Homo sapiens: one gene and its partners. The protein of the gene in region 5 interacts with the protein of the main gene of each other region in a pairwise test. Each region holds a gene or a part of one and is shown on either strand. Other genes may lie near its edges. The genes, in order: A2M, TOR1A, SOD1, DBH, AP2B1, AP1M1 and SLC25A6.

What was found.
Region 1: the proteins of AP2B1 (region 5) and A2M interact in binary tests that used the Homo sapiens proteins (3 or more experiments, as listed by UniProt).
Region 2: the proteins of AP2B1 (region 5) and TOR1A interact in binary tests that used the Homo sapiens proteins (3 or more experiments, as listed by UniProt).
Region 3: the proteins of AP2B1 (region 5) and SOD1 interact in binary tests that used the Homo sapiens proteins (3 or more experiments, as listed by UniProt).
Region 4: the proteins of AP2B1 (region 5) and DBH interact in binary tests that used the Homo sapiens proteins (3 or more experiments, as listed by UniProt).
Region 6: the proteins of AP2B1 (region 5) and AP1M1 interact in binary tests that used the Homo sapiens proteins (3 or more experiments, as listed by UniProt).
Region 7: the proteins of AP2B1 (region 5) and SLC25A6 interact in binary tests that used the Homo sapiens proteins (3 or more experiments, as listed by UniProt).

The regions. Positions count from the first base shown.
Region 1 is NC_000012.12:9,102,420-9,105,919, reverse strand, and holds part of A2M (alpha-2-macroglobulin isoform a precursor), read left to right. Parts: intron 1-1,519; coding exon 1,520-1,681; intron 1,682-3,500. UniProt on the Homo sapiens protein: Is able to inhibit all four classes of proteinases by a unique 'trapping' mechanism. This protein has a peptide stretch, called the 'bait region' which contains specific cleavage sites for different proteinases.
Region 2 is NC_000009.12:129,814,137-129,817,636, reverse strand, and holds part of TOR1A (torsin-1A precursor), read left to right. Parts: intron 1-3,414; coding exon 3,415-3,500. UniProt on the Homo sapiens protein: Protein with chaperone functions important for the control of protein folding, processing, stability and localization as well as for the reduction of misfolded protein aggregates.
Region 3 is NC_000021.9:31,666,062-31,669,431, forward strand, and holds the end of SOD1 (superoxide dismutase [Cu-Zn]), read left to right. Parts: intron 1-387; coding exon 388-457; intron 458-1,196; coding exon 1,197-1,314; intron 1,315-2,409; coding exon 2,410-2,517; 3' UTR 2,518-2,870; downstream 2,871-3,370. UniProt on the Homo sapiens protein: Destroys radicals which are normally produced within the cells and which are toxic to biological systems.
Region 4 is NC_000009.12:133,635,207-133,639,162, forward strand, and holds the start of DBH (dopamine beta-hydroxylase precursor), read left to right. Parts: upstream 1-1,156; 5' UTR 1,157-1,165; coding exon 1,166-1,504; intron 1,505-3,956. UniProt on the Homo sapiens protein: Catalyzes the hydroxylation of dopamine to noradrenaline (also known as norepinephrine), and is thus vital for regulation of these neurotransmitters.
Region 5 is NC_000017.11:35,625,322-35,628,821, reverse strand, and holds part of AP2B1 (AP-2 complex subunit beta), read right to left. Parts: intron 2,202-3,500; coding exon 1,980-2,201; intron 1,438-1,979; coding exon 1,317-1,437; intron 1,192-1,316; coding exon 1,096-1,191; intron 1-1,095. UniProt on the Homo sapiens protein: Component of the adaptor protein complex 2 (AP-2). Adaptor protein complexes function in protein transport via transport vesicles in different membrane traffic pathways.
Region 6 is NC_000019.10:16,200,911-16,204,410, forward strand, and holds part of AP1M1 (AP-1 complex subunit mu-1), read left to right. Parts: intron 1-2,548; coding exon 2,549-2,705; intron 2,706-3,500. UniProt on the Homo sapiens protein: Subunit of clathrin-associated adaptor protein complex 1 that plays a role in protein sorting in the trans-Golgi network (TGN) and endosomes.
Region 7 is NC_000023.11:1,385,652-1,389,113, forward strand, and holds the end of SLC25A6 (ADP/ATP translocase 3), read right to left. Parts: intron 1,769-3,462; coding exon 1,628-1,768; intron 1,109-1,627; coding exon 951-1,108; 3' UTR 501-950; downstream 1-500. UniProt on the Homo sapiens protein: ADP:ATP antiporter that mediates import of ADP into the mitochondrial matrix for ATP synthesis, and export of ATP out to fuel the cell.

The DNA of each region.
Region 1 (3,500 bases), on a different chromosome or scaffold from region 5:
CTCAGGTTTTTATGACATTTTCTCACAAGAATCTCAAAATTCATGCTGACCAGTTTCATTACGATGCTAACACTAACTTTGTATGGAAACAGGTGGGTAGGTGGTTTTAATTTTTATTTTGAAGTATTAAAGATTCTACAATAATGTTTATTTCATGGATAGTATATTTACACTATTTTTCTATAACAAGTATATTTCTAAAACAGTGAACATGGGGTAAAACACTGCTATTTAAGGTTCTCAGATTTTTGAATTATGAATTTTCATGTTATCTACCAAAAAAATCTTCTCTTACAATTTTTCTGTTGTCAGCAGATGTGCAAATGGATCTTTATGACTCTAGAAGTCTGAGATCACAGTTACATGTGCCTCAATGTGTATTTACTGTGTATCATTTTCTTAATGTAAATGTTACAGGATTTCAGCTATGAAGGGTGTAAAAGAGGCATAGACTCAACAAAGTGGAGTACATTCTAGAAGGCTTGGTTATGTCATGACACCAAAATGTATTCAACTTCCTAAAATGAAAGTGTAGCTCATTTGTAAATTTCTCAGAAAGATAGTGTACTTTGTAAGTACATTTTATTGCTGTTAAATATCCTATTTGTCATAAGACTCTCTAGCTAGAAGAAAATCAGAATTATGTGCCTATTCTTGTCTTTGTACATGCAGCCAACATTTCACTGGCAAACTTAGATTTTGTAAATCAATTATGAGTACTGATGGGGGTCAGCCTATTGTTCTTCCTGCTACCAACTGTAGCTTATACTGAAAAAGAATTGCCACCTTTACAATCTGAACTGGACTACTCAACTGCCAATACAATATTAGCAGTAAATTAGATTTGGCAACTTATTTAATACTGTGTGCCTCTTTTCAATTTTATATTTTTCACATGGGAAGTGTGTCATAAAATCTGCCTACCTTCCAAAAGGCTGAAGATCTAGGTTGAGAAGCAGAGACCATGTCTAAGGCAACTGGAGAAACACACAGGACAATGTATTGGCAATTGTTTACTTGTGCACTTATGAGACTTCAGACACTAATCTATAGGAAGTTAATGGTCCACTCCAAAATAGGTGTTTGGGGCACAAATAAATTTAGTTAATAGATTAATAGATTAAAATATTTCATTATCATATTACTCTAGTGCTCTGTGACTCTCTAAGAGTTATATATAATAATACACAGCACTTCCAAAATATCTAGAAGACATTTTTCAGGTCACTCTTGTTATTATCCCTATCACTCTCTATCCCTTCACACTGCTCTGTTTTTCTTCTTAGGATTGATTACTACTAAATTAGTGTATGTTATGTATATATTTATTTAGCATCTATCTCTTTCACTAGACAGTAAGCTCTGTGATGGAAGAAACTTCGTTTTTTTTCACTGCTGTGTCCTCAGTGCCTGGAACCATGTTCAACATAGAGGAGGCACTAAAAAATGTGATAAATGAATATGTTTGGTGCCTATTAGTTATTACCAATATAACTAATCCACAGCTTTTAATCTTCAGGTGCGCCTAGTAGATGGGAAAGGCGTCCCTATACCAAATAAAGTCATATTCATCAGAGGAAATGAAGCAAACTATTACTCCAATGCTACCACGGATGAGCATGGCCTTGTACAGTTCTCTATCAACACCACCAATGTTATGGGTACCTCTCTTACTGTTAGGGTAAGTTTGGAAAGAAATTACCAATGACATGAAGTAGCCTTGGAAACAAGGTTGCAACCTAAGGGTGAGAAAATTTCCAAACTGTGTCTAGTTCTATGGAGAGAAAAAAACTAGCAATTAGAAACCGATTGAAGGTTAACTTTTTTAAAGTTTATGAAAAGAAGGCAGTATATTGTGATTAAAAGTGCGGGTTAGACTTTAGCAGTGTTGCTGGGAACGTAAAATGGCGGAGCCACTATGAAAAACAGTATAGTAGTTCCTGAAAAAATTAAAAAATAGAATTACCAAATGATCCAGTAATCCTACTTCTGGACATATATTCAAAAGAATCGAAAACGGGGTCTCAAAGAGCTATTTGCACACCCGTGTTCATAGCCGCACTATTCACAATAGCTGAGAGATCGAGGCTACCCAAATGTCCATCAAGGGATGAACAGGTAAACAAAATGTGGTATATAAATACAACAGAATATTATGCAGCCTGAGAAGGGAAGAAAATCCTGTCACATGCTACAGCATGAATGATCCTTGAGGACGTTATGGTAAGTGAAATAAGCTAGTCACAAAAAGACCAATACTGTATGATTCACGTACATGGGGTTTCTAAAGTAGTCAAAGTCATAGAAACAGAAAACAGGATGGTGGTTGCCAAGGGCTAGGGAAAGAGAGAAATGGGGAATTCCTCTTATTGGTATTCAGGTTTAGTTTTACAAGATGAAAAGTTCTGGAGATCTGTTGCACAACAGATATACTTAATACTACCAAACTGTACACTAAAGAATAATGAAGATGGTAATTTTATGTTGTGTGTGTGTGTGTGTTTATAATAACTTTTTTGAAAAGTGTGAATTCCAGAATCTGAATCAGATAAAGTGGTTAAAAATACTGGCTCAACCCTATTTTAAGGAATTAACTAAAACCTCTGTGCTTCATTTCCTTATCTGTAAAATGATTGCAATACTAACACCTGACTCTTGGGGTGGTTGTGAAGATTAAGTGAAATCATACATGTTGAATCACTTAGTAAGCCCCCTTTAACTGTTAGATACTTTTACTATAAAAGCCAATTCTAACATAATTAGCATTTAGTTTTAAATATATATACTCCAAAAATTATTACCTTACTTTATTTTGTCTTGCTATTCTAATTTTCTCCAGATGACCTGTTCATACCAATATAAGTTATTCGGTATAGCATGCAGTCCTCTATTCATCAAGAGAGATGTAGACATGTCTATAGATACATGGATATACAATACATATTTAATATATATTACATAATCATGGTAATGGAAAACGCCTGCCTCTTTAGAGTTTTACCTTGTTATAGAGAAATAAATAATACATTTTATTTATTTAGCTTTAATAGATGGCATAAAAGCACCTCCCTCTAATTTGAATGTTTACTCATTTCAAAAAGTGTCTTGAATGCTTTCCACGTGCCAGCACTGTGCTAGTCTTGACAATGAAATTATTATTTCTACCTGTTCCCTGTTTGGGGTGATCATATATGTGTTGTCACCAAAATATACATTAAGATATGAACAAAATGTTTTGCTCAAGGATTCACTAGTGCTATTGGGAGCTGGGGATGAAGGTAGAGGAAGCCTGAAAGGAGCTAAGGAATAACTTCTACAGGAAGAAAAGTTGGAAATATAACCCAAATAGGGCCTCTGAGGTATTAGAATCCAGATTGCAGGGAGCATTAAAAATAGTCAGCCTAGGCCAGGCACGGTAGCTCACGCCTGTAATCCCAGCACTTTGGGAGGCTGAGGTGGGTGGATTGCGTGAGGCCAGGAGATCGAGACGAGCCTAGGCA
Region 2 (3,500 bases), on a different chromosome or scaffold from region 5:
AGCTCTGCCTCCCAGGTTCACACCATTCTCCTGCCTCAGCCTGCCGAGTAGCTGGGACTACAGGCACCTGCCACCACACTCGGCAAATTTTTTGTATTTTTAGTAGAAACGGGGTTTCACCATGTTAGCCAGGATGGTCTTATCTCCTGACCTCGTGATCCGCCTGCCTCGGCCTCCCAAAGTGCTGGGATTACAGGCGTGAGCCACCACGCCTGGCCAGTTCCCCCATTTTCTTCAGCTACATGATTTTCTTTGTAGAAGAAAGAGCCAGTGGTTGAGCAAGGAAGGATGCCGTGGGCAGCTCAGGGGGAGAGATGACCTGTTAGTTCCTCCCTTTCTCTGCATTGCCCAAGAGCAACAGCCAAATAGCGGTTCGGCCCTTATTTTGTACTGGGCACCGTGTGAAACAGCCTGCCTGCGGATTTCACTCAGTCTTCACCATACCTCGCAGGGTAGAGACTGAGACTCAGAGATGTGGCAGCTTGCCCAGGGCCATGCAGCCTGTTCGGTATCTCTGATTCTAAAACCTGAGCTTTTAAGTTTTAGCTCACTACTTCTCCAAATGTCATGAGACCTTTGACCTTGAACCTGGGGAGGTGGAAAGCCAGCCTGATGGAGGCTGACTCACTGGCTAAGACCTGTGAGTTGTGCAGGGCTGGCTGTTCAAGTCTTTGCGCTTCAGGTTCTGGAGATGACAAAACAGAAGGGCTCATTTGAAACAGACTTGCCAAGAAATTAATCCTACAGTTAGTGAACAGCATGGGGTACAGTATGTCAGTGTGTGCAAGTGGAATACTACTGAGGAAAGACAAGTATTTTGTAACATGTTGGATAGTTTCTTGCCTTGCCAAAAAACATGAGCACATGCAGTGGAAACTTTAGCCTAATGCTGAGGCAGATGAGCCCCGTGGCCTAGAATCCACGCTGTGGAGGTTACACGGTGCTTAGGAGTGCCAACCTGGGAGTCGGGCAGCCCTGGCCCACAGACTGACTGTGACCTCAGGCAGATGGCTGAACATTGATTCAGCACATGTATATGGAGCATCTGGTAAGTGCCAGGCATCATACCTAGGACGGGGGACACAGCAGTGAACAAACACAGAAATTCTTGCCCTTATCAATCCTACATCCTAGTGATAATAAAGAAAGAAAATGTATCAGATGATGGGGGATAGATATGTTGATGTGTGTGATGTGTTTGTGTGTATACATGCAGTACATATGCACACATCGCACATGTACACATGTGGACATATAGATATCTTTCCCCCCGGGGCCAGTAGGGGAAAAAAATCAAGAAAGGCTTTGGGGTTCAGGGTAAGGATGGGCTCTGCTTTAATAGAGTGGACAGGGAAGGCTCCCTGTGAGGGTGGCATTTGGGCTGACCCGGGGGAGTGAGCCATGTGGATGTCTGAGGGAAAAGCATTCCCCAGTGCGGACAGCACGTCCAGGGGCCCGAGGGGGGCCTGTGCTTGGGGTCCCTGTGACTGGTTGAGGATAAACAGAGGAGGGAAACGGGAGGTGATAGAAGAGGCGAGATTTGGGGTGGAGGTGCAGACCGTGGGAAGCCTGGCGGGCCATGGTGAACCTTGAGTCTTATTCCAAGTGGAAGAGAGAGGCCTGGAGGGTCCTGGGCAGGTGGTGCTGTGATCTGACGGGGCCTTCACAGGACCTTGCTGGCAACTGGATGGAGGACAGACCCACAGCCACAGGGGCAGGGAGCCCAGCGTGGAAGCGGTGGGGGTGGAGGGACACGGTTGGCTTCTGGGTGTGTTTTGAAGGTAGAACCTGTAAGACTTCCTGCAGAATTGTATATGGGAATGAGAGAAGAATCAAGGACCTGGCTTGAGCGATGGGAAGGGTGGCACTGCCATTGAAGGGAAGGGACAGCAGGAAGGACGGGCGAGCTCAGTGGGCAATGGCATCAGGGCATCAGAGCAGAGCCACGAAGCTCCAGGGAGGCCATCAGGCCAGGAGGGCAAACTTGGGAGTCCTCAGGAGATGACTGTGAAGTCTCAGGGCTGCCTGAGGTCACCTGTTCTGCCGTCACTCCTGGGTCTGCGTGGCTGGGTCCTTGTTGCTCGGGCTCTGCCCTGAGGTCCTGCCCAGCCTGCTCCACCTCCCGCTCTCCATGTCCGTTCTGCTGTGTGGCATTCGCCACTCCAAGCACCATCTGAGATTGTTTCCTGCCCTAGAGTGGTAAAGCCGTGAGGTCCGTCTGCCCTCAGCTGTGTCCCCAGGCCCAGGGCGTGCCTGGCACAGAGCAGGCCTCTGAGAACCAGCCTCCCACGTGAGTTCATGATAGCAAGACAGCCCCTCGTTCCCATTCAGTGGTTGGTTCTGTTCTTTCCCTGGCCATAGGCTCCACTCTGTCAGTCAGCCACACATTTATTGAGTACCAGTTGTGTGCAAAGCACTGTTGGGCATGAAAAGCATTAACCCAGTGAATGAGGAGGAGCTTGGGTTGGGGACGGAGCCCCAGAATTACATGGCAGACCAGAAGGGAATCAGCTCAGTAGAAGACACGCATGGGCTCGTGGGCGACGCAGTGTGTGCTGTGTCATCTGGGGCTGGGAGGAAGTGTCCTGGGTCAGGAGTTCCAGGAGCCCAGGAGGAGTGGACGGGTCAGTGCAGAGCCAGCCCGCATTCAGGGGAGAAAACACGGCCAAGGCCAGGCCTTCACGGGGAGCCCAGCGTGGGCTGCACATCTGCACTCTCCAGGCTAGTTTTGGTGCCCACATGCTCTGCAGGGTCTGGGCACTGTGGCAGCGGCAGCAGGCTTCCCTGTTGCTAGTCCAGCTGCTGAAACTCCAGGGAGAGTCAAAAAGTTCCCAAATACAGAGGCGTGGCTGGTAGTCCTTCCCGGGAATTCTTCTTGCTTCCCGCTTTCTGTGGAACTCTGCCTTCCCCACTCTGCCTCTCTGCTTGTTCCTGGGCCCCAGGACCTCTTTCCCATCTTCGATCTCTTAAGTCATACCTTGGGAGGCCTCCCCCAGCCCGCCGTGTAAAGAGGGCTGTCACAGCTTCTGCTGTCACAGAAGCATTACAATGTGCAGGTGCCTGTTAACATCTGCCTTCCCCACTGATCTGGAGCTCCACAAGGGAGAGGGCACACCCAGTAGGTATGTGTGGGATGGATAGGAGGGTGGATGACACCCAGTAGATGTGTATGGGATGGATAGGAGGGTGGATGACACCCAGTAGGTGTGTATGGGATGGATGGGAGGGTGGGTGACCCCTAGTAGATGTGGGGGGGGTGGGTGGGTGACCCCCAGTAGGTGTGTGTGGCATGGATAGGTGACCCCCAGTAGACGTTTGTGGGACGGATGGGAGGGTAGGTAAGTGACCCCCAGGAGGCGTCTATAGGGCAGGTGGGTGGATGTGGATGAACAGCACCTTGTTTCTTCTTCCCAGGTGGCTTCTGGCACAGCAGCTTAATTGACCGGAACCTCATTGATTATTTTGTTCCCTTCCTCCCCCTGGAATACAAACACCTAAAA
Region 3 (3,370 bases), on a different chromosome or scaffold from region 5:
CCCAGGTTCAAGCGATTCTCCTGCCTCAGCCTACTAAGTAGCTGGGACTATAGGTGCGCACCACCACGCCTAGCTAATTTTTGTATTTTTTCAGTAGAGACAGGGTTTTGCTATGCTGGCCAGGCTGGTCTCAAACTCCTGACCTCAGATGATCCAGCCACCTCAGCTTCCCAAAGTGCTGGGGTTCCAGGTGTTAGCCACCATGCCTGGCCATAGACTTGTTTCTGTTCCCTTCTCACTGTGGCTGTACCAAGGTGTTGCTTATCCCAGAAGTCGTGATGCAGGTCAGCACTTTCTCCATGGGAAGTTTTAGCAGTGTTTCTTTTTAGAATGTATTTGGGAACTTTAATTCATAATTTAGCTTTTTTTTCTTCTTCTTATAAATAGGCTGTACCAGTGCAGGTCCTCACTTTAATCCTCTATCCAGAAAACACGGTGGGCCAAAGGATGAAGAGAGGTAACAAGATGCTTAACTCTTGTAATAATGGCGATAGCTTTCTGGAGTTCATATGGTATACTACTTGTAAATATGTGCTAAGATAATTCCGTGTTTCCCCCACCTTTGCTTTTGAACTTGCTGACTCATCTAAACCCCTGCTCCCAAATGCTGGAATGCTTTTACTTCCTGGGCTTAAAGGAATTGACAAATGGGGACACTTAAAACGATTTGGTTTTGTAGCATTTATTGAATATAGAACTAATACAAGTGCCAAAGGGGAACTAATACAGGAAATGTCATGAACAGTACTGTCAACCACTAGCAAAATCAATCATCATTGTGAAACATAGGAAGCTTCTGTAGATAAAAAAAAAAATTGATACTGAAAACTAGTCGAGACTCCATTTATATGTGTATGTTTTCTGAAAGCCTTTCAGAAAAATATTAAATTTAAGGACAAGATTTTTATATCAGAGGCCTTGGGACATAGCTTTGTTAGCTATGCCAGTAATTAACAGGCATAACTCAGTAACTGAGAGTTTACCCTTTGGTACTTCTGAAATCAGGTGCAGCCCCATCTTTCTTCCCAGAGCATTAGTGTGTAGACGTGAAGCCTTGTTTGAAGAGCTGTATTTAGAATGCCTAGCTACTTGTTTGCAAATTTGTGTCTACTCAGTCAAGTTTTAATTTAGCTCATGAACTACCTTGATGTTTAGTGGCATCAGCCCTAATCCATCTGATGCTTTTTCATTATTAGGCATGTTGGAGACTTGGGCAATGTGACTGCTGACAAAGATGGTGTGGCCGATGTGTCTATTGAAGATTCTGTGATCTCACTCTCAGGAGACCATTGCATCATTGGCCGCACACTGGTGGTAAGTTTTCATAAAAGGATATGCATAAAACTTCTTCTAACATACAGTCATGTATCTTTTCACTTTGATTGTTAGTCGCGGTTTCTAAAGATCCAGATAAACTGTACTTGCAGTTCAAATTAGGAAAAGCAATTTTATTGGACAATTACGGTGAAAATGAATTATTTTATCTAGGTCAGTTAAGAACACTGTTCTGCTAAGATGCAGTAAAAAGCAGGTTACATTTGACCATATTAGATCTGAGTTTGGAAAACAGAAGTAGTCTTTAGTTTTAAAATGGCCAGATTTTCTTGCCAGGATTGGGTTTCTCACTTGTTAAACAGAACATTTTGTTAAGTTTAAAACCTGGGATGGACTTAAGTATTCATGTTCATTCATGTTCATTCAGGACTGCAGGTTATCATGACTTGTTTAACTTGTGGGAAGCTGTTGTCCCAAGTTATCCTGGGGAACTGCATCTGGTTCTTGCAAAACACCAAGTAGACAGGCTCTCTTTTACCTCCCCTTGAGGGCATTAACATTCAGTAGTCACTTCCATTCAGTTAACCCTTTATTTTTATGGTTTTTCTTGAGCCATAGTTGTAAAGCAGAAAAATCATTTATAAAGGTTTGTTGAACAAAATTCAAAATACTGTTGCTTAAAGTATTAAGATTTTTTAGGATTATACCTTACTTATAGGCCCGTCATTCATTTGGCATGAAATTTTGAGTTTTATTCACTTTCACTTTCCTTTTTTTCCAAAGCAATTAAAAAAACTGCCAAAGTAAGAGTGACTGCGGAACTAAGGTTACTGTAACTTACCATGGAGGATTAAGGGTAGCGTGTGGTGGTCTACAACATAGTTATTTGGGTTTTAGTATTTCATTTAGACAGCAACACTTACCTAATGTTTAAAGGTAATGTCTTTGCAACACCAAGAAAAAGCTTTGAGTAGTAGTTTCTACTTTTAAACTACTAAATATTAGTATATCTCTCTACTAGGATTAATGTTATTTTTCTAATATTATGAGGTTCTTAAACATCTTTTGGGTATTGTTGGGAGGAGGTAGTGATTACTTGACAGCCCAAAGTTATCTTCTTAAAATTTTTTACAGGTCCATGAAAAAGCAGATGACTTGGGCAAAGGTGGAAATGAAGAAAGTACAAAGACAGGAAACGCTGGAAGTCGTTTGGCTTGTGGTGTAATTGGGATCGCCCAATAAACATTCCCTTGGATGTAGTCTGAGGCCCCTTAACTCATCTGTTATCCTGCTAGCTGTAGAAATGTATCCTGATAAACATTAAACACTGTAATCTTAAAAGTGTAATTGTGTGACTTTTTCAGAGTTGCTTTAAAGTACCTGTAGTGAGAAACTGATTTATGATCACTTGGAAGATTTGTATAGTTTTATAAAACTCAGTTAAAATGTCTGTTTCAATGACCTGTATTTTGCCAGACTTAAATCACAGATGGGTATTAAACTTGTCAGAATTTCTTTGTCATTCAAGCCTGTGAATAAAAACCCTGTATGGCACTTATTATGAGGCTATTAAAAGAATCCAAATTCAAACTAAATTAGCTCTGATACTTATTTATATAAACAGCTTCAGTGGAACAGATTTAGTAATACTAACAGTGATAGCATTTTATTTTGAAAGTGTTTTGAGACCATCAAAATGCATACTTTAAAACAGCAGGTCTTTTAGCTAAAACTAACACAACTCTGCTTAGACAAATAGGCTGTCCTTTGAAAGCTTTAGGGAAATGTTCCTGCTTAGTCATTTTAGCATTTTGATTCATAAAGTACCTCCTCATTTTAAAAAGACATTATGATGTAAGAGAGCCATTTGATAACTTTTTAGTGAGCTTTGAAAGGCAAGTTACAGCCTCAGCTAGCTAGTAAGATTATCTACCTGCCAGAATGGCACAAATTCTACATTCAAGGGTAGACGCTGGCACAACCTACTTACAGATTAGCCCTTTAAAGCAATCTGTAGCATTAGAAGATGGAACCAAGGAAATGTTTGACTGTGGGTTCTGGCTGTTGAGAAATAATTTACACACCGAATTAGTGA
Region 4 (3,956 bases), on a different chromosome or scaffold from region 5:
AAGGCTAGATTCTGGGTTTCTCCAGAGAGACGAGAAACAGGAGGGAAAAGGAAGGAAGGGAGGGAGGAGGCTGGGGAGGAGGGACAGCTTCTAGTCCAGCTGGAGAGATCTGTCAACCCAGCCTGGGGGGTGGAGCTGGAGGGATCAAGCAGAATGTCCTGAAGGCAGCTGCCCTCAGTCTACTTGTGGGAGAGGACAGGAGGGAGAGGTGCCGTGGTGAGACTGACCCTCGGGCCCACGGGTGGATGATGGCAAAGGTCCTGTGGCAGGTGTGGGAGAAGCAGGGCTGCGGCCAGCTGCCCTGAGAGGCTTCAAATTCAGGCCAGATCTGCTCTGGGCAAGAGGAAGCTGTGGGTTTGGGAGCTTCAGAGACAGGGGAGCAGGCCTGTCACTCACCCTCTTTTCCTTAAAGGCTGTCACCCCCAGCAGTGCACCCTGCAGCCTGCCTATCCCCTGTGCAGCTCCAGCTCCGTCTGTCCCCAGCAATGCACCCCACGCCCATGTCCCCCACTCCCTATGATGCTCTCGCGCCTTCTGGAGCAGCAGTGGTACCAGCTGGAGGCTGTGGAAAAATTGAGAGGAGACAAAAGTGGGAAGAGCAGGCCGTGGAGAGAGTGTCTAAACACAGGGACTATTTGGAGATTGTCTTATTTTTGGTTTGAAATGGGCCCACCTGCTAGTATTGTACAAACGGCTCTGCTCGCTAGGCCAGGCCTGCAGTGGCTACGGGCCTATCCTTCACTGGTCAGCCTGGAGCAGCTCCTCGGACCTCAGTCTGCTCATCCGTGGGTAGAGGCGACGCAGACCCCATCCCACTGGGGACTGGGCCAGACAGCCTGTGAGGCAGTCAGCTGGTGCCTGGCCAGAGGGTGTCTGAAAGGCCTCTTGGCTGCAGGGTGCATCTGCTTTTGGGACAGCTCTTCAGAGCCATCTCAGAAGGGACAGCATCCGCCTGTCTACTTCAACTCCCACTGATGACGTCCATGTGTCATTAGTGCCAATTAGAGGAGGGCAGCAGGCTGAGTGCTTGGCCTGGGGCGCAAGCTTGTGGGAGGGAAAATTGGATTCCCCGCTAGACAAATGTGATTACCCGTGCTGCCTGGACCCACCCCATTCAGGACCAGGGCATAAATGGCCAGGTGGGACCAGAGAGCTCACCCCAGCCATGCCCGCCCTCAGTCGCTGGGCCAGCCTGCCCGGCCCCAGCATGCGGGAGGCAGCCTTCATGTACAGCACAGCAGTGGCCATCTTCCTGGTCATCCTGGTGGCCGCACTGCAGGGCTCGGCTCCCCGTGAGAGCCCCCTCCCCTATCACATCCCCCTGGACCCGGAGGGGTCCCTGGAGCTCTCATGGAATGTCAGCTACACCCAGGAGGCCATCCATTTCCAGCTCCTGGTGCGGAGGCTCAAGGCTGGCGTCCTGTTTGGGATGTCCGACCGTGGCGAGCTTGAGAACGCAGATCTCGTGGTGCTCTGGACCGATGGGGACACTGCCTATTTTGCGGTGAGTCTCTCCTCCCTGCCAGCTCTCCAAACCCTTCCTGACCCGGCACCCCATCTGGCCGTCTTTCTGCACTCACCCTCCTTAACCCAGAAAGTTCTTCTGTCACCTGTCAGTGTTTGAGTTGACTCTGCTCTGAGCCAAGTCTGCACCCCGAGCTTGGGCATCATGGGGATCTCAGTTTGAGGACAAAATAGGAAAGACATGCTTTCCATGGTCCTTGACTGCCCGCCCCAAATCATGGGACCCAGTAATCCCAAGGAATGGAACTATACACAGAGGACGCACACACCACACACACTCGTGCCGCTCCACACCCCACACGCGCATGAGCACAGACCCCACGACCCTCGGCCCTGTAAACAATGCCTAGTACCACGTCCCCAGAGCACACATGCCCACTGATGTGGGCCAGGTGGTGGCGCGTGGCTGGGCACAGCATGAGGCCTGCACACCCATGGGATCCAGCCTGACCTACTGTGCTTGTACCCGTGGACCAACTGAGCAGGTGCAGACACCCTGCCCCTACCCATAGGTGTTGAACAAGCCCCACAGGGCTCAGCCAAAACTGTTAGGATGGGCTCTTGACTCCTTTCCGTCCAAATTTACCTCCACTCTTGTTTCACAGGGTGGAGAAAGGGGAAAAGTTTCCCTTCAAACTGGAGGGGACTTTAGGCCCTTCCACAAGCTGCAGGGGGTCCCCGAAGTGGGCGAGCCCACCGCCTACAATGGGTCCTGCTCCAGCCTTCCTTTCCACATGGGACTGGCCACCAGGGCTTCTTTGTGGATGAAACCCAACTCTCTCCACAGAAACACACAAAGGAGTGACAAAAAAGTTTTATTTCTGAAGTCAGGAGGTGCCTGCTTTATCTGGGAGTGCCGAGCTGGAGCGGGGGAGCTGTGTCTGTGCGGAGCGGCCGGCTCCAGCTCTGCATCTTGGTCTCACCATGGGCTGGTGGGGCGGAGAGTCCCTCTCTGCCTTTTTGGGTGTTGTGAATTCATGAGGGCAGATGGTGGCTGCTGTTTCTGGAGCTGAGCTTGCCCCCTCCAATTCCCAAGACTCGGCCAGGAGGCACTTGCCTGTGTCGCTAGTGAGGCTTAGGGCCACCCAGGTAGGGTGAGTGGAGCTGCCTGGGAAGGGCCCTGCTCTGACCCATAGGGCTGCACAGATTCCTGTGCACAAAGACACTCTGTGGCTCAGGTTCCAGCCAAGAAAGACCTGGGACAGCCCTGATTCTGAGCCGTCAGCCGTCTGGAGGAGCAGCTGAACCCCATCGCTGACAGTTTGGGGTTCTTCGCAAGCCTCTGCCATGAGGCACCCTGAGTGCAGGAGCATTTGCTCCTCTCTGGGGCAGCGTCCCCCCTGCCTGCATTTCCCGGCTGCTAGGGAAGCCAGAGGAAGCCAGGTGACTTTGCCTTTCCGTGCACTGGCAAGGTTAATTTGCACAACAAATTCCTACGAAAGCAAATGTCAGCCTTATTATTCCTCCCTAAGCAATATGTTCAACTAATATCTTCTTGATTTCCAGCTGAAATATCACAGGCGAACTTTCTGCCTCTGTTTAAAATGAGTCTCTCGGCAAACCAGCGGTGTCCCCAGCGGGGTTGCATTGTGTGGCTTTTTTCTCTAGGGAAAGTTTTGCAGTATCTTTTGCAGATTTCTTTTTTCTCAAGGAAATGAAGAAAAGATGTTTTACCCTGAATGTAAGATTAAAAAGAAACACAACCCAAAGTCCTTAAGGCCAAGGGCCCGAGGCTTTCTTGGGGTTTCCATGGGAAAGGCCAGGCAGGGCAGGGAAGCAGCTTCGTTTGGACAATTCTGGTGGGCTCTGGGTGGCTGGGGTGGTCTCTAGTTGCCTGGTTCCTGGCCCTAGGGTGTTTTAGGGTTGGGGCAATATTGGCCTGGGGTGTGAGAGTCAGGTGGAGGAGGTAGCTAGGGATATGGGCTTGGTGTGGGTCGGAATGTTAGGAATATGATTCTCACACACGTGTGAATGTTGGAGGGCAGGACAGGTGTAAACAACTCTGACCATCTGTTTGAGCCTTCAATCAATTAATAGATGCCAAATAGACAAATATGGAATCTAAGAAGGGCCCTTCTTGAGTACGAAGGGCAGCCTGCTTGTTGGGGAAGGCTCCTCGCTGTCTCTCAGTGGGTCTCCCTGGTGGTCTTCCATGTGACCTGGCCTCGGGCCACCGTGTCCCTGCCCCTTAGGGCCCAGTGCAAGGGGAGCGGCCGGAGACGGGGAGGGCAGAGGTCACTGATCCAGATCCCAGGAAGCATCCTCGGAGAATGCAGCAGGTCCAATGCCTCCCTGGGCCTCAGTTTACCTTCTCCAAGCAGGGCTGGGACTAAGGTGAGGGGAACAATGCCTAGGCTGCAGGGTTTAAAGTGGTGCTTCAGGCTGGGTGTGGTGGCTCATGCCTGTAATTCCAGCACTTTGGGAGGGCAAGG
Region 5 (3,500 bases):
AAAGGCATATTATTTCAATCTACCATGATAATGGATATAGGAACAAAAACCTTCATTATGTAACTACACTGGAAAACAGGAGACGGAAGTGGGAATGGTGGGTGTATGAAGTAAACTTCTTATAGCAGATAGTTAACAGAAAAAGTCTATGATAGGTAAATTAATAAATAATAGCATAAGAATATTATTGTTGTTCTTTTTTTGAGACAGCGTCTTGCTCTGTCACCCAGAGTGAAAAGGTTTCAGGTTGGAGTGCAGTGGCACAATAACAGCTTACTACAGTCTCAGCCTCCCAGACTCAAGCAATCTTCCTGCCTCAGCCTTCCAAGTAGCTGGGACTACAGGTGTGTGCCACCACACCCAGCTAACTTAAAAAAGTTTTTGTAGAAACAGAGCCTTACTATGTTGCCTAGGGTGGTCTCAAACTGCTGGGCTCAAGCAGTCCTCTCACCTTGGCCTCCCAAAGTGCTGGGATTACAGGTGTGAGCCACTGCACCCAGCCAAGAATATTATTTAGAGATATGGCAGCCCAGTCATGTCTCCAAATCCATGGGAGATTGGTTCCTGGGCCCCTGTGGATACCAAAATCCATGGATGCTTAAGTGCCTTACATAAAATGGTATAGTATTTGCATTTATACACATTCTCTTGTATACTTTAAACCATCTCTAGATTATTTATAATACCTAATGCAATGTAAATACTATGTAAATAATTGTTATATTTTTAAGGAATATAGACAAAAAAAGGTCTGTACATGTTCAGTACAGACAAAACCATCCTTTTTCTTTTCCCCTGAATATTTTTGATCCGCAGTTAGCTGAATCCACGGATGTGGAACTCATGGATATGGAGGACCTATTTTAATCAAAAGAATAACTAAAAGCAAAATCAGAGTTAAAAATATTCCCTCTGAGAAGAAAGTCTAGGTAGGGAAGGGAGGAACCAGAGACAGCTGCTTTCCATTAAAAATTCTTTAACATTGAAACTGTGTGCTTTATTATTTTGATAAACTTAAAAATTATTTTAAAGAAAAAAGTGAAGAGAACTCTCAGAATCCCCAATACATGATCCTAACTACCATCAGACACTTGCCTCCACCTTGATGGCACACCGTCCAATGGCCCGCACAGCTTTTCGAACAAAGTCAACATCCACCTCTGTAGCATATTCTTTCAGTTCTGCCAGAACCTGTTAAACCCAGGAAGTGGTTAATCATTAAGGATTCTCAAATAGCAATCTCACAGCCTAGCTTCTTTAAAGGCCAGACCTTAAGAGCTAAATCATCATCAACTTGAGTCTGCATAAAGTCTGACCTGAGCAATGTTGGCTTGAGATGCCAAACGAATCATGATGTCCAACTTCTCTAGTTTAACATAGATGGGATCATTGTACTTCACAAAGAAGACTTTGATTTCCTGCTTCAAGATTTCAGGCCTAGGGTACACAGAAACAGAAGAAAGGAAGGTGAAGGCATATACTGATATACCCTTCTGAGACTGTATTAATACCTAATCTGTGCCTCTCTGCTCTCCTCTCGCTCCACTCAGGCAAAAAAAAAAAAAAAAAAAAAAAAGCATAAACTTCCTCTATACGCCTCTATTCTTATCAGTTCCACTTGGCAGATTATTTTTATCCTTTTTAAGCATCAGGGCACATGTTGCCATGAAGAACTGCTAGAACAACAATCTGGCTCTAAACTACAGCCTGAACCATATCAACCAGGCACTAGACAGTATATCAGAAAGAGACCCTTCAGAAAACAAACTGGATTGTGGAGCAACGCATGGCATTTATTATAGAAACACTGTAATATCAACTGTTAGCCTCCTGGTGCTAGGCAAGCAAGTTTTTCTGCCATATAACATTTTCATTTCCATATATTAAAAAGAGATTAACACTAGCCTAATTAACATTGACATTATTAAGCTTAATGCAAAATTACAAACACTTTAATCAACACTTCGCTATTTCCCAACCTTTTCTGGACAATTAAGTTGATGTTCCTCAGGGCGACATACTGCACTTCTGGCTCCCCAGACAGCAAAGTGACAAGTGGAGGGGCTAACTTCTTCAGCAGCATATTGTAGTAGTCAGAATCCTTAGGTAACAATTCTAGAAACTTCATTAGGACTTTTACCGCTGAAAGCACCACTGCTGAGTTGGCATGGGATAGCCGGGGAGTTACCCGCTCACAGATGCTGAGGGTGGAGAATGAAAATTAATATCATGAATTATAATTTATTTGCTGAATTCATTCTATAAGGTAATATGTCAGAGTCTAATGGCCAAGTATCAAAAAATTAAAGAATTAGTTAGAAAAGTCAAAGCTCCATGCTTAGGTAAAATTGGGATCCAACAATGCAGAAGCCTCATTCTCAGCAAACTACAGGCAGAGCAGGGACATAAGAAGACTTCAGGAAACCAGTAATAAGGGATGTTCAAACTGGAAAGAACCTAGCAATACCCAAGACACTTGAGCTCACACCATTTACCTTCTTGTTTTATAGTCCTCTTTGTCTCCCCATATTATGTTAAGGCTCCCTGCCTCTCAGCCCATTTCTACTCAACCTATAGGAAGTCAAATTAAGCATTCTGAGAGTTATTTCATAGGAAGAGACAGCAAACGCAGTTGTGGCTGAAGATTTCATTGTAAGATACAGCAGGAGGCAGGCTGGTAGGGAAAACAATCCAACCTCCTCTCTTAAGGATAATGAGAATAAGGGACTCTCTGAAAAGGGTTTGTTTTTTAAATAGCAGGACACCACTACTATATTTTCCTGTCTCCCCCCTCTCCTAGCCCCTGCCACCTACACTTACATGCCTCATAAAATGGTTGATATTTAATTATCTGTTGAGGGTTCTTTAGAAATTAATCCAATTTTGGTAGCTTGGGCAACACAAGTAGCTAACTTACTGTATTAAAGAAAGAAGATAAATAGGCTGTACTTCTCTCTTCCTCCTATTCCTGACTTCCTTTGGGTCTTTATATGAATGCCACCTTCTCAGTGAGGTCTTCCCTGGCCATCCTTTAAAAAGAAAATACAACCCCTCACCCCCAAATGCCCAGCATTTCTTAGATTTCTTCTCTACTTTACTTTCTTGTTAGTACTTATCACCATCTCACATATTACATATTACACTATCTATACATATTATATATTATATTATCTATACATATTATATATATTCCTACCCCCATCCTTCAGAATAAGTGATCCCAGAGGGCCATGACTTTGTTCACTGCTGTATCCTCAGAGCCTGGAACACTGCCTGGCACACAGTATGCACTTAATAAATATTTGCTAAGTGAGTGAATGAATGAATGTGATGTCAATGGCCAACAGAAGAAAATAAAATTCTCAGTAAAGTTATTTCCAGACTATATTTGTACTTTCAGTGATGGAAAGAAACTATCAGAGTGAGCTTTAGTTCAGTCCAGAGGGACAATTTCCCAGATAAGTGAAGATCACTTACATTCTAGTAGCTTGGAAATCAGC
Region 6 (3,500 bases), on a different chromosome or scaffold from region 5:
CACTCTTCCCAGGTGGGCTTTGACTCATGTCCATGGGCCAGTGACTCTCAATTTTGTTCACAGCATTTCTCTGGAGATCTAGTGGCCTCTGAGACACCAGAGAGGTCCCGCCGCCACCATAAATTCAGCATTCTTCTAAATGCACTCCCTGTACCTGCTCTCTTTCCATTTCAGTGATGCCATCACCCATTCAGCCATCTGCACAAGAGACCTGGACGTTATCCTCGCCTCCTTTGTCTCCTCACCCCTGTTTTCACTCCACAAATGTTTACTGAGCACCTACTATGGTCCAGGCCCCTTTCTGGGTGCTGGAAAACAGCTGTGAATGAGACAGGAGTAGTTGCTGTTCTCAGGGGATGTCAGACAGTAAAGGAGGATAGAAATAAATGTTTAATGCACCAGGTGATAGGGATAAAGCAGGGGTCAGGGTTCAGAGGGATGGGACATGATCTCAGCCAGAGCAAGCAGGGAGGATTTCTTTTTTTTTTTTTTTTTTTTTTTTTTTTGAGATGGAGTTACGTTCTGTCAGCCAAGCTGGAGTGCAATGGCACAATCTCGGCTCACTGCAACCTCTGCCTCCCAGGTTCAAGTGATTCTCCTGCCTCAGCCTCCCAAGTAGCTGGGACTACAGGCATGCACCACCACGCCTGGCTAATTTTGTATTTTTAGTAGAGACAGGGTTTCACCATATTGGTCAGGCTGGTCTCAAACTCCTGACTTCAGATGATCCGCCTGCCTCAGCCTCCCAAAGTGCTGGGATTACAGGCGTGAGCCACCGCGCCCAGCTGGGAGGACTTCCTAGAGGAGGTGTTATTTGAGCTGAGGCTTGAGAAATGAGAAGAGCCAGGTCAGGGCAAAGGCCCGAGGTGGGAACAGATGTGGATCACTCAGAGACCAGCTAAGGGGCCAGGCTGGAGCAGAGTGAACCAGGGCAGCGCAGGCAGAGAGGCGTCAGAGGGGCTGTGAGGAGCCAGACCACGCTGGTCCTTGGGAGCCATGGGGACGGGCTTGGGCTTTGTTCTCAGTGCCGGGGAGGCTGGGGTAAGTGGCAGTTCAGCAGTGGGGGAGAGACCCCGTCTGGCTTCTGTGTAGGAAGAGCCCTGTCACCCTTTGTGAGGAAGGACCTGGGGGGTCAAGAGTGACAGCAGGGGGAGGGGCTGTTCCCTCAACACGTCATCACCTGCCTCCCTCCAATCAGTTCCACAGGCCACGAAGCAGACACTAGGAAAGGAAGGTGCCACCCCGCACCACCCCCAGTCTCGCCTTGAGAGAATAAAGGCAGCGTGTGATGAAATGCCAAGTTCTGAGGCAGGTGGTTCCCAGGATGGTCAGCGCCGCAATGGCCTTCTCAGCATGTTGCTGAGTCCTGCAGCTGGCTGTCCTGCAGGCCCCAAGAGCTGCAGCTGCTCCAGGCAGCATCTCCAACCGCAGCCATGCCCAGGCTAGCAAAACTTCCGACCTCCTTTTTATTCTTTAATGAGGTATAATTTACATTAATAACCTGCACTTATCTAAAGTGTACAATTTGATGAGCTCAGTCATGTGGGAAGCCATAACCACACATTCCATCGCCCCCGAAAGCTTCTTCACACCCCTTTGCTGTCTAGCCCCATCCCTAGGCACCCACCGATGTGTTTTTCATCACCATTTTCTAGGATTTTATACACGTGCAGTCATGCAGGATGAGCTCTCGTTTGTCTGGTTTCTCTCAGCCAGCACAGTGATTCTGATGCGCCTGTGTATCGGGAGTCCGATCCCTTCCGTTGCTGAGGCATGCTTCTCATGGTGTGCACGGATACAGTTTGTTTCTAGTTCACCTGCTGAAGGACATTGGCATTGTTTCTAGTCTGGGTCTGTTTCAATTAAAGCTGCTGTTAAGATTCTCGTGCTAGTGTTTGTGCAGACATGTGGTTTCATTTCTCTTGGGTAAATACCAGAGAGAGGAATGACTGGATCGTATGGTAACTCTGGGTTTCACTTTTTGAGAAACTGCCAGACTACACCAAAGTAGTTGTCCCATTTTCCATTCCTATCAGCAGTGGACAGGGGTTCTGGATGCTGTATATCCTGACCCACAGGCTATGAAAGAGAGAGACCAGGAAGAGGGCTTCTCCCTTCAGGCCACCTGTGGACTTCAGTAAATACGAACCTTCAGCGGGAGTGGGCGCCCTGACACAGGCGGGAGAGCAAGGTGCGTTGGCCCGGCAAAGGCTCTGAGAAGGTCTGCATTGAGAGCTTGTGAGGCATTGCTTAACCTGATGTCTCTGGGTGATTCAGTCCTGGACCTTTGCTGCAGAGTTCGCCTCTACCCTCACCCTGCGAAGAACTGCAGTGGCCCCTGTGGGCATTCACACTGGGAGATGCTCTTCTCCAGGAATTCCCTGGGGGATGGAGATCAGAACGGCCTCAAGTCCTGCTCTTTTGCGGATAGTGGCCATGACCGGAGTCCCCAGAGCGAAGCAGGGTGGTGCATCTCACCCCCTGCCCCAAGCCCCCAGATTGTAGAACTGAAAATGCAAGCATCTTTTCTCTTCCTTCCCCACCCCAGGTGCTCATCTGCCGGAACTACCGTGGCGACGTGGACATGTCAGAGGTGGAGCACTTCATGCCCATCCTGATGGAGAAGGAGGAGGAGGGGATGCTGTCGCCCATCCTGGCCCACGGGGGGGTCCGTTTCATGTGGATCAAACACAACAACCTGTATCGTATCCCTTTGCTGGGGGTGCTCCCAGGGGACTCCTGTGTGGGTGTTGGTGTGTGTGCATATCCACACGCCTGCAAGCAGGGCTGGTTTGTGCACAGCGCAAGCATTGGACACAGCCATGCCCTCCTGGAGCTCCCTGCTGCCTGCGGAGACAGGCAGACAATGCACGATGACATGTGTGATGGGTGTGGGGAGAGGAGCAGGTGTGACTTGAACCTCTTCAGCCCAGGGGCCCAGGAAGGGAAATGACACCCTGGAGGAAGCCTGCAGGGAGGCCTGGCTTCTGCCAGCTGGAGGGGTGGGCAGGCACTAGGCGTGGGTGAAGGCTCTGCAGGGAAGAGCCTCATTCCAACAGCTGCACTCGGGGTGGCTGGAGAGGGGGCGTGTAGGGCAGCGAGGCTGGAGTGGTCAGCGGGGTCTGGGGTCTCAAAGAACATCATCTGAAATGTGACAGGAAGTCTCTGGAGGCTTTTAGATGTGTGTCTTCTGGAGGTTTCTGGCTGCTGAGTGGGGCAAGACTGTGGGGACAGGAGAGGACATGGGTAGGTGGGGAGTAGGCTGGGGCCATCGTGCAGGTGGGAGGGGAAGTGGCCTGGACCACGGAGGGGTGGTGGGGTACAGCCCCGCCCAGATCTCAGAGCCCCCCACCCTTCCTGTCCTTGGGCCCATGGGGAGACTTGGCCAAGCCAGTTTCTATCCAGGAGGTCTAACTGGCCACCCCACAGCTTTGGGCAGACCCGCAAGCCCATCTCAGTACCCACACTACTGCGGAAGGGCCTGCTTTGCCACTCACAGC
Region 7 (3,462 bases), on a different chromosome or scaffold from region 5:
GTGGGGGTCTTTGGGAGTCATGAGGCCTCATGGATGGGATCAGTGCCCTTACAGAAAGGACTCCAGAGAGCACCCTGGCCTCATCCATCATCTGAGGACACACAGGGAGAAGGCGCCATCTAGAAGCCAGGAACTGGGTACTCACCAGAGACTGAATCTACCATACCTTGGTTTTCTGGGACCTCCAGCCTCCAGAGCTGAGACATGAGATCATACAAATGCTCTCAGAGAGGGTACAGTAAGTGCAGGTGCCCTGGGGTCCTCCAGCATTTATCAGGGAGCCCGGCTACACTTCTGCCAGCCTTGGTTTCTACCCCCCGCCTCTTCCCAGCTGTGACCCTGCCCTCTGTGCCCCAGGGGTGCTGGGGAGGAGGCAGCACTGCAGACCAGGAACGTGGGCCAGCCACGGGCAGAGCGTGGCCCCATCTGCGTCCCGTGGGCCCAGCGCCCATCTCCAGACCCCAGGCCGCCCTGTGGAGAGGTGCGTGGCCAGGCAGGAGGACCTCTGCGTCCTCTGTTTATTGTTTTGCAGCAGGAGGCCCAACATAGAACATACTCGCCAGTACTCGGCTGTGCAAAACAGGGGCTAGCGCTGAAGTACAAATGGGAAAACGTGATTCTTTTGTTTTAAATAAATACTTAGAACACGACTTGGCTCCTACAAGCATCTGGACTCTAGGTCTCAGTACTGGAGTGTCTCACCCATGGGCCCCACGCAGGGACGCCACGGTTCCCTCCCACCCCGTGATCAAGACACGGAATCGGCTGCCGATGGTTGGATCGCAATGCGCCCCTTTTCTAGAGCCTTCCCCGGCCATCTACAGGCAGGATGCGGCTGGGAAAAAGACAACTGGAATTTCTCGAAGGTTGATGGTCCGCACGGTTGAGGATTCTACGTGGTTCTCTTGGTTCCCCTGGTGTGTGTGTGTGTGTGGAGGAGGCCGCGGCCCTTAGATCACCTTCTTGAGCTCGTCGTACAGGACCAGCACGAAGGCGCCCCCCATGCCCCGCAGGACGTTGGACCACGCACCCTTGAAGAAGGCCTTGCCCCCCTCATCTCTGAAGATCTTCCTCCAACAGTCGACGGTGCCCGTGTACATGATGTCAGCTGCAACGACAGGGAGACAGTGAGGGCCTCGCCGCCAAGCTCTTCAAGACACGGACGCCACCTGCACCCACAAAGACGTTTCACAGAAATAACACCCCAGACGCCTGAGCCACAGTTCTGATTACAGGAGGGATACCTGAGGCTCCCCCAGCTCAAGCCCTCCTCCTAAGCCACTGTCTCAGGGAGGGCTGGACACAGGACTTCAGGCCCCGCCCTGGGTGTCCCCCATCTCCACCCCGGGGTCCATGCAGAGAAGGCAGGATCGAGGGTGTGGGTGCAACCAGAGGTTCTAGGAGGCGGGGATTTAGAAACTGCCGCCCGGACCATGAAACCCCAAAAAGATCAGAAGCCCATCGTTCAGGAAAATCCTTCCACACAGCCAGGTTACTTTCGGACACACTTGCTTGTCTCACACGCCCTGGAAGTGCCTCCTTTGATGGTTCCTGACCTCCCACGGGCCTAGGGCAAGGAGCTTGGTTCCCCTTCCCGGCAGCAAGGGTCCCCCGCCCCCCCGAGTACCTCCTTTGCGCCCGGACTGCATCATCATGCGCCGCCGCACCGTGTCGAAGGGGTAGGACACCACGCCGGCCACGGCCGTCACGGTCTGCGCGATCATCCAGCTCACCACGATGTGCGTGTTCTTGGGGTCGGGGAGCATGCCTGCGCGGGAACGGCACGTCACCGTCTCCAGCGCCTGCACGGCCACCCGAGACCAGGGTCGGCCCCCAGGGTGTGCTCACGGCCCCCTGAGGTGGTGCCGAGCTCTTCCGAGACCACCAGTGCCCCCTCCACGTGGCTGCTCAGTGCCAGCTGACGTTTACAACACGAGAGGTCGGGGCAGGGCCAGAGGGGAAAAGGCCGCCTGCCACCTACCGGAGCCCAGCAAGACAGTCCCAGAGGCCGGGGTTAGGCCTGTTTGGGGAAGGGAATAGGGCCCTGACCTTCTGAAGGGTCACCGTTACTATGGGAGTTACACTCTGTCCTCAAAATCCACATGCTGAAGTCCCACCCCCACCCCAGGACCTCAGGATGCAACTGTACTTGGATATAAGGTCTTGAAAGAGGTAAGACTAAAGGAGGCCAGTAGGGTGGGCCCTGATCCTACGACCCCAGTGTCCTTCTAAAAAGAGATGAGGACACAGACACACGGAGGGATGACCCTGTGAGGACACAGGGAGAAGACGGTGTCTACAAGCCAAAAAGAGAGGCCTCAGAAGGAACCAGCCCTGCCCACTCCTTGATGTCAGACTTCCAGCCTCCAGGACTCCGGGAGAATCAATGTCTGCTGTTTATAAGCCACCCAGTCTATAGTATTGTTTTAGGAGCCTGAAATGGACTAAGACACCTCATAAGAAGAGCAGATAAGGACACAGACACACACAGAGGGATGACCCTGTGAGGACACAGGGAGAAGACGGCGTCTACAAGCCCAGGAGAGAGGCCTCAGGAGGAACCAGCCCTGCCCCACACCTTGATCTCAGACTTCCAGACTCCAGGATTATGGAAGAATCAATGTCTGTTGTTTACAGTCCACCCACTCTATGGTATTCTGTGATAGCAGCCTCAAATGGACTAAGACATCTCATCAGAAGAGGACACGAGGACACAGACACACACAGAGGGACGACCCTGTGAGGACACAGGGAAGACGGAGTCTCCAAGCCCAGGAGAGAGGCCTCAGGAGGAACCAGCCCTGCCCACACCTGGATCTCAGACTTCCAGCCTCCAGGACTGTGGGAGAATCAATGTCTGTTGTTTCTAAGTCACCCAGTCTATGGTGTTCTGGGATGGCAGCCTGAAATGGACTAAGACATCTCATAACAAGAGATGAGGACACAGACACACACACAGGAAAAAGCCTGAGAAGACAGCATCTCCAAGCCCAGGAGAGAGGCCTCAGGAGGAACCAGCCCTGCCCATGCCTTGGTCTCAGACCTTCAGCCTGCAGGACTGTGGGAGAATCAATGTCTGCTGTTTACAATCCACCCAGTCTATGGTATTCTGTGATAGCAGCCTGAAATGGATTAAGACATCTCATAACAAGAGGAGATGAGGACACAGACACACACAGAGGGACGACCCCGTGAGGGCACAGGGAGAAGACGGCATCTACAAGCCTAGGAGAGAGGCCGCAGGAGGAACCAGCCCTGCCCACACCTGGATCTCAGACCTCCAGCCTCCAGGACTGTAGGAAAATCAATGTCTGTTGTTTATAGTCACCCAGTCTATGGTATTCTGTGATAGCAGCCTGAAATGGATTAAGACATCCCATAAGAAGAGAGGATGAGGACACAGACACACACAGAGGGATGATGCTGTGAGGGCACAGGGAGAAGACGGCGTCTCCAAGTCCA